Homo sapiens: one gene and its partner. The protein of the gene in region 2 purifies or fractionates together with the protein of the main gene of each other region. This does not show direct contact. Each region holds a gene or a part of one and is shown on either strand. Other genes may lie near its edges.

Region 1 (3,500 bases), on a different chromosome or scaffold from region 2:
ATCCAGAATATACAAGGAAATCAAACAACTCAACAATAAAAAAAATCTCATAAAATATGGGCAAAGGGCATGGCCAAAATGTACATAAAGAAATGCTCAACTTTACTAATCAACAGAGAAATGCAAACCAAAACCAAAATGAGATATCATCTCACCTCAGTCAGAATTGCTATTATTAAAAAGACAAAAAAAAAATTAACAGACGTTGGCAAGGATGTGGAGAAAAAGGAACTCTTATACACTGTTTTTGGGAGTATAAATATAGCCACTATGGAAAACAGCATGGAGATTTCTGAAAAAACCAAAAGTAGCACTACCATAAGATCCAAAAATCTCACTAATTGGCATTTATCCAAAGCACGAGAAATCAGTATGTCAAAGGGATACCTGCACTCTCATGTTTATTATTGCATTATTCACAATAGACAAGGTATGGAATCGATCTAAGTGTCCATCAACAGATAAATGGATAAAGAAAGTGTGGTATACATACACAATGAAATAGTATTCAGCCATAAAAGAGAATGAAATCCTGTCATTTGGAACAACATGGATGGAACTGGAGTTGTTATGTCAAGTGAAATAAGCCAGGCACAAAAAGACAAAAATAGCATGTTCTCACTTATATGTGGGAGTTAAAAAAGTTGATCACATGAAGATAGAGAATGGAAAGAGAGATAACAGAGACTGGGGAGGGTGATTGGGAGGAGAAGGGAAGATGAAGAGAAGTGTGTTAAAAAGTACACACATAAATAAGATAGAAGGAATAAATTCAATGTTTGATAGAAGAGCAGGGTGACTATAGTTACAAAAATGTATTGTATTTGGGTTATGGACACCGTAGATACCTTGACTTTATCACTATGCATTACATACACATAATAGAATTTCATATGTATCCCATAATTTGTACTGATAAAAAAATTTAAAAGAAAGTGAACCATCAGGCCAGGCGCAGTGGCTCACGCCTGTAATCCCAGCACTTTGGGAGGCCGAGGCCGGTGGATCACAAGGTCAGGAGATTGAGACCATCCTGGCTAACACGGTGAAACCTCATCTCTACTAAAATTACAAAAAAAAAAAAAAAAAATTAGCCGGGCGTGGTGGCGGGCATCTGTAGTCCCAGCTACTCGGGAGGCTGAGGCAGGAGAATGGCGTGAACCCGAGACCCGAGAGGCGGAGCTTGCAGTGAGCCAACATGTGCCACTGCCCTCCAGCCTGGGCGACAGAGCGAGACTCCGGTCTCAAAAAAAAAAAAAAAAAAAAAAAAAAGAAGGTGAACCATCAGAGAGACATTCTCCTGCAGGTTTTAGAGGAAGAGAACAATCAGCCATGTTGCGAAATGCCTATACAGAGGGGCAGCCTCTAGTAATTGAATGCCAACCCAACCCCAACAAACAGCTACCCAATAACCTAAGACCTCAGTCATATAGCTGCAAGGAACTGAATTCTGCCAAAAACTTGAATGAAGATGGAAGAGTCACCTGGGCCCCATATGATAACTGTGTTCCCGACCAACACCTTGAATGCCACTTTTTGATACCCTGAGCAGAGGACCTTAGCAGGCTATGCCCAGACAACTGACCAATGGAAGCTGTGAGATAATAAATAGCTGTTGTTTTAAGATACTAAGTTTGTGGTAATTTGTTACACAGCAATAGAAAATTAATACAGCATGCTTCTTGTTTCTAGACCTATCCTGGGTAGACAGAGATGTGCGGTTGTCATTCAAGTGTAGGCAGTACAGTTCTGGCCTCTGGTTAACTGCTTGAAGTCTATGTCCTGGCCACTAGCCCTCGTGTTGGGTATGTTCTGTCATTTCGTCAGTGGTGTTAAGGACCAGTCATGACCAATCCTTATGAATTACATAGTGTTAGTATCCCATTCCCTCACTCCCATCTCACTATATGTTCCTACTCTATTTCTAGAGCACAGAGAACTTACCTTCTTGTGTTATGTATGTTATGCAGCTTTTAAAAATTATTTGAAATATTACACATATCATCTTTTTGTATTTGAAGTTGGAGGGGTATGTTTATGCATGTGTGTCATTTGACATGTAGGCCCAGAAATCCAAAAGTACTTAAATTGGTAAGAATACTAAATCTGCAATAAACAAGCCAGTAAAATAGATTATCTTCAGCAAAATAGTATCTTGTAAATGCTGTACCTTGGAGGAGCCAGGGTTTGTTCTAAAAACTCCTCAATTTTAATGAAGTCTGTTTTCAACTCCTTGTTATACACCAGGAACGGAGGATTGGTACCTGGGGCTAAGTCCTTTAGTTCTTCAGGCTTTCTATGATTATTAAAAATAAGCAGAGTTAGGTCTCTAGATAAAGTACACATTAAATAAACACCAATATTTTATTGGTATCTACCAATCTCAATTCCTAGAATTTAACATGTCCTGATTTCTCTTACCTGGTCATGTCAACAGTTGTCACATTAAATTTAACTCCTTTAAGCCAGAGGATCATGAAAAGGCGTTGGCAAAAGGGACAGTTTCCAATACTCTCTCCATCACTTCCAGCCTATTAAGATAAAGAGAGACCTCAGTTCATTTGTTTGTTCAATAAGTATGTATTTAGTTCCTAATAGGAAATGAGCCAGTTGCTAGAGACAAACATGGACATTCTTAATCTCATGTACTCCATCATCTATGGACAGAGAGATATAGGGAAGCAAATAATCTCATTATATGTAAAGTTACAACTGTGATGGGTACATAATAATAATAATAAATTTTATATATTATCAGAATTTATATAATTTTCCTATTGATAGACATTTAAGATATTCCAAAATTATTACTACTCTAAGCACTTCAGAAACAAACATTTCTGGGCATATAGCTTCTTCCACTTCTGAGATTATATCTTTAAGGTTAATCTTTAAAATGAAAATGGTCAGTAAAATGTATGCACATTTCCCATTTTGATAGATCTTACCAAATTTCCTTTCTTTTTTTTTTATTATTATACTTTAAGTTTTAGGGTACATGTGCACATTGTGCAGGTTAGTTACATATGTATACATGTGCCATGCTGGTGCGCTGCACCCACTAACTCGTCATCTAGCATTAGGTATATCTCCTGATGTTATCCCTCCCCCCTCCCCCCACCCCACAACAGTCCCCAGAGTGTGATATTCCCCTTCCTGTGTCCATGTGATCTCATTGTTCAATTCCCACCTATGAGTGAGAATATGCGGTGTTTGGTTTTTTGTTCTTGCGATAGTTTACTGAGAATGATGATTTCCAATTTCATCCATGTCCCTACAAAGGACATGAACTCCTCATTTTCTATGGCTGCATAGTATTCCATGGTGTATATATGCCACATTTTCTGAATCCAGTCTATCATTGTTGGACATTTGGGTTGGTTCCAAGTCTTTGCTATTGTGAATAATGCCGCAATAAACATACGTGTGCATGTGTCTTTATAGCAGCATGATTTATAGTTCTTTGGGTATATACCCAGTAATGGGATGGCTGGGTCAAA
Region 2 (4,065 bases):
TCTCCATTTCCTTCTCTCCACTAAAACTGCTGTAGCCCGGGTCACCACCACCACCCTGATTTCTAAATCTTGTGGCCACTTCTCAGTCGTTACATGTGACATGTTCTCTCCAGAGTGTTCATCACTGTTGATGTTCCCTCTTGAAGCGCCCTTCTTTAGCTGCCGTTACACCGTACTCCTACCTGGTCAGTGTCCTTTGGTGACTTCTCTACCTGCCCTTGCTGTTCTAACCTGGGCCCTCGTGCTCTTTACACACTCTCTCATCCATTTCCATAGCTTCAATTGCCATCTGCTTTCAGAAGATTCCAGAATCTCTATCACCAGCCTTGATTTCGCAAACTCCAGTCACATATATTCAGTTACCCCTTTAACATTTGTATTTGGATGTCCTGTGGGCATCTCAAACTCATTATGTCCAAAGCTGAACTCCTCACCTCGGCCTCCCAAACCTGTTCCTTGGGCCCCAAACCTGGGCATTTCCTTGACTTTTCCCCCTTATTCGCACATGCAGTCATTCCCAAGTTCTGATCATTTCAGTTCCTGAAGATCCTTGAAATGATCAGCGCTCCACCCTCCCTGCGGTTACTCTAGTTCAGGCCACCCTCTCCCATTTAGGGGGCGGATCTCCCTGTCTCTGGCTTTTCCTCTGTCGGCCACAGTGCAGCCGGTGTCTTTCTAAAACCCAGCAAATTGGGCTGCTAATAATCCCTTGCTTGAAAGCCTTCAGTGACTCCATGATCTTGCCTCTGCTGATTTGTTTCATGTCTCTCCATATCACATGTCGCAGTGTATTTCCTCTTCTTTTACATTGTGGGATCCGCTGCGCCTGGCACAAGGTAGGTGCGCCATCGATACGTGGAAGATTCACAAGGGCCAAGCCGCCACGAGGCTCTATATCGACTTGATGGCCACAGGCAGCGCGTGGGACTCTGCATCTGCTGCTTGGCTGTGGGAGCGAGAAGACACCTGGCCCTGTGCACTCCTTGCCGCGCTCTCCAATTCTGAGAAGTGACAATACCTTTCTTTCCCCGATTAGGAAAGAGGTGACACACCTTCCTATCAGCTGAGCAGGGTGGGCCAAGACACGGTGAGGCCTCAGCTCCGCAGCTCCACTTCCTGGGGCTCGGCCCGTTCCAGAACAAAAGAGACTCGCGCATGTTCTGCGGCCACGAGACTCGCTCCCGCCGGCCTTAAGGTGTCGCCCTCTGGCCAGAGCGGATGCGCCGGGCGGTGGGGCCGCTCCTGCCGGCTACCTGCGCAAGCGCAGAGGGCTCTTCCGGCGCCTTCCCAGGCGGGGATGCTGCGGCTCCGCAGCGGGCTGAGGCACCTTCGGGCAACACCCAATACTCGGGGCTCCGCTCGGCTTCTTTGCGCCGAGATGCCTAAGAAGGCTGGTGCGACGACCAAGGCCAGTAGCAGGTCCCGTGGCGGCAGAGGGGTGGGCCTCAGGGGTACTTGTTGAAGAGCGCGGGAGAAGCGGGGCCCGGGAGTGAGTGGAGGCACTGCCAGCGGCTTGCCGTCTCTCAGTTCCGGGGCTCAGGACAGCCGCCGCCACCCCCAGAGCTGCGGCCTGCTGCCGTCGCCCCGCCTCAGTAGGCTGCGCTGCCGTCCACCTGGTGATTTCTGAGCGCTGGGCCCGGCGGCAGCCGAGCTCTCCTTGGGCTGCGTGTGCTGACCTTTGGCCTCCTACCCGCACTCCCAGTCCAGCAATTCATGTTCCCGCAGCGGCATGACCTGCGTTTCCCCAGGAGGCTGTATTCTGCTTTCTCCTCCCTTGCTTTGGCTGATCGCACCCCTTCTGTCAAGAATACAGCACTCCCATTTCCACCATCTTTGTTTGGCCAACCCCAGTCCGTTTCTCAGACTCAGCTCAAGCACTGCCTCCTGCTGGCAGCATTCTCCAGTGCCCCAATGCTGATTTGCCTGTGGGGTAATGTTCTGTGCCTATCTCATCGGTGCACTTAGCACAGTGTATTATAATTTTGTATGTTCTTTCTCCCTCGCAGCAGTCCGAGCTCCTTGAGAGCAAGGACCATGTACCTTTTCATCTTTACATATCCATTGCCTACATATTTGTTGAACGAAAGTTCCTAGCACAGCCCCTGTCCCATAACAGGCCTTTAAATATCAAGCACTATTTTTTTTTCCTCCCTTTCCCGCAACATGCAGACATACACACTTTCACCAACATTTATTAGCTCCGACTGCATGAGATACAATGATGAATAATAAATGATCCCTGCCCCCAAGGAATTGGAAATACAAAGCAGAGGGAGGAGCAAGCATTAAGGTTTAGAAGCCAGAGTTAGGTTTTCTTGCAAGGGGGGAAAAAACACTGTTGGGTTGATGGGAACCCTTCGTGGGAAAATTGAGTAGAGCCTTGAAGGTTGTGGGAAAAGCTTTCTAGGTGGCCAGAAGTCCCTGGACACCACTGATGAGCCTAGTTTGTCTGTTAAGGGTGAAAGGGGGTAGTGGAAGAATCAAATTAAATGTGTGGGAAAATATTTTGTAACCTGTAAAGTTGTGTGGTTGTCATTTTAGGGTAAAAGCCAGAGCAAGGAACCAGAGAGACCACTTCCTCCCTTAGGTCCTGTGGCAGTTGATCCTAAAGGATGCGTCACCATAGCCATCCATGCAAAACCTGGCTCCAAACAAAATGCTGTAACAGGTATACCTGGACACTGGGGTGGGATTCAAGTGTGAATCAGGTGTCTCCTACAGCCCTCCTTTGCTTTGGTTAGCTGAAAGCTTATTCTATGACAGTTGATTTTTCACATCTGCAGTTAGAGGCTTCTCCATTTTAAAATTCTAGATTCTAATGTAAAGGTGTCTTAAAGTGAATATATCTTTAAATCATGCCAAGTTACACGAAAACCATTGTATATTTTCCTCTTTAAAAATACAGTATTTTAGAAAGGACAGTTATGGAAACTTGTGTGTAGTCTGGATTATTCTTAGTTTGTCCTGTTCCAAAACTGGAGACATTGGCCAGAGAAAGAAGAGACATTTTAGTGTAGTTTAATGATCACTGGCCTAAGGAGAGGGAGAAAACTTGAGATCTGAGACCCGTGATCAGTTCCTGTGCGAATTTGTTTTAAATCAAAACAGTATAAAACATTCATGGGTCCAGTTTTTTCATCTGTCAGATGAGATCGTTGGACTAAGTTAGAGGCTTTCAGGCTATTCTCTGGAGTGCTGGAGGTGCCTCAGGAATCAGCTTTGGGCAAGGAGGAGGCCAGGCAGACAGGGCTCCTGACTAGCTCTGTTTACATTTGTTTTACATATTGGGATTCTGGAGAAAATTGGGGGAAGGGATTCTAAAGGAAAAAAAGTTCAAAAACCATTGCTCTAAATTCTTTTGAAGGTCTTTTTCACCTCTAAAGCTCTGTATTTCAAACCATTTTTAGATTTTGAAAGGAAAACCACAACATTGACGTGCTAGACCTGGTTTATGCTGATGACCAAGTTAACTTAGCCATACCCTCCTTGGCCAGCATTTTCTAAGTAGTGGGTGTGGACACTGTCTACGTTGGAGTATTATGTTTCATTAGATCTAAAATGGGAGGCTGGATGCCATGGCTCATTTGTAAAATGGAGATAATAATGGTACTAATATCTTCATAAAGTTATTATAAGGATTAAAGAAGTTAGTATTTGTAAAGCCTTTAACACATTTGTGTGTGCTTAAAATTGGTGTATAGTAAGTGCTCTGTAAATATTTGTTAAGTAAACATTATTAAATTTTAAAAACACTCAAGATATGTGTCACATAAGAGGTGAACCTAGTCCGGGGCTCTCATTTTCCTGTTGAGGAAACCCTGCACAACCTTGTACAATCTAGTAAGCTGCCCTGTCCATACACTTCTTCAGTGACATTGATGAGGCTGAAGGCCATCTATGACTCCCTGCCTGGGGCTCTTCACATACCAAGGGCAATTTCCAGTTGCCTAAATCCAGGATATTCCCCAGGGCTCTGTAAGCCCATCTTGGTCGGCAAGATTGGGTCAATAACTTTTCTTCTCTGGATTTATTTCCTGTAATGGTAGGGCCATTTTTATCATGTTC

Evidence for each region. Proteins that work in one complex are often made in the same cells at the same time.
Region 1: the proteins of C15orf40 (region 2) and CLIC2 purify together in Homo sapiens (affinity purification with mass spectrometry; one large-scale study listed by BioGRID and IntAct). This does not show direct contact.

What each region holds. Positions count from the first base shown.
Region 1 is NC_000023.11:155,296,615-155,300,114, forward strand, and holds part of CLIC2 (chloride intracellular channel protein 2), read right to left. Parts: intron 2,532-3,500; coding exon 2,422-2,531; intron 2,297-2,421; coding exon 2,171-2,296; intron 1-2,170. UniProt on the Homo sapiens protein: In the soluble state, catalyzes glutaredoxin-like thiol disulfide exchange reactions with reduced glutathione as electron donor. Displays weak glutathione peroxidase activity. Can insert into membranes and form chloride ion channels.
Region 2 is NC_000015.10:83,008,840-83,012,904, reverse strand, and holds the start of C15orf40 (UPF0235 protein C15orf40), read left to right. Parts: upstream 1-1,265; 5' UTR 1,266-1,297; coding exon 1,298-1,408; exon of another isoform or gene 1,409-1,419; intron 1,420-2,541; coding exon 2,542-2,668; intron 2,669-4,065.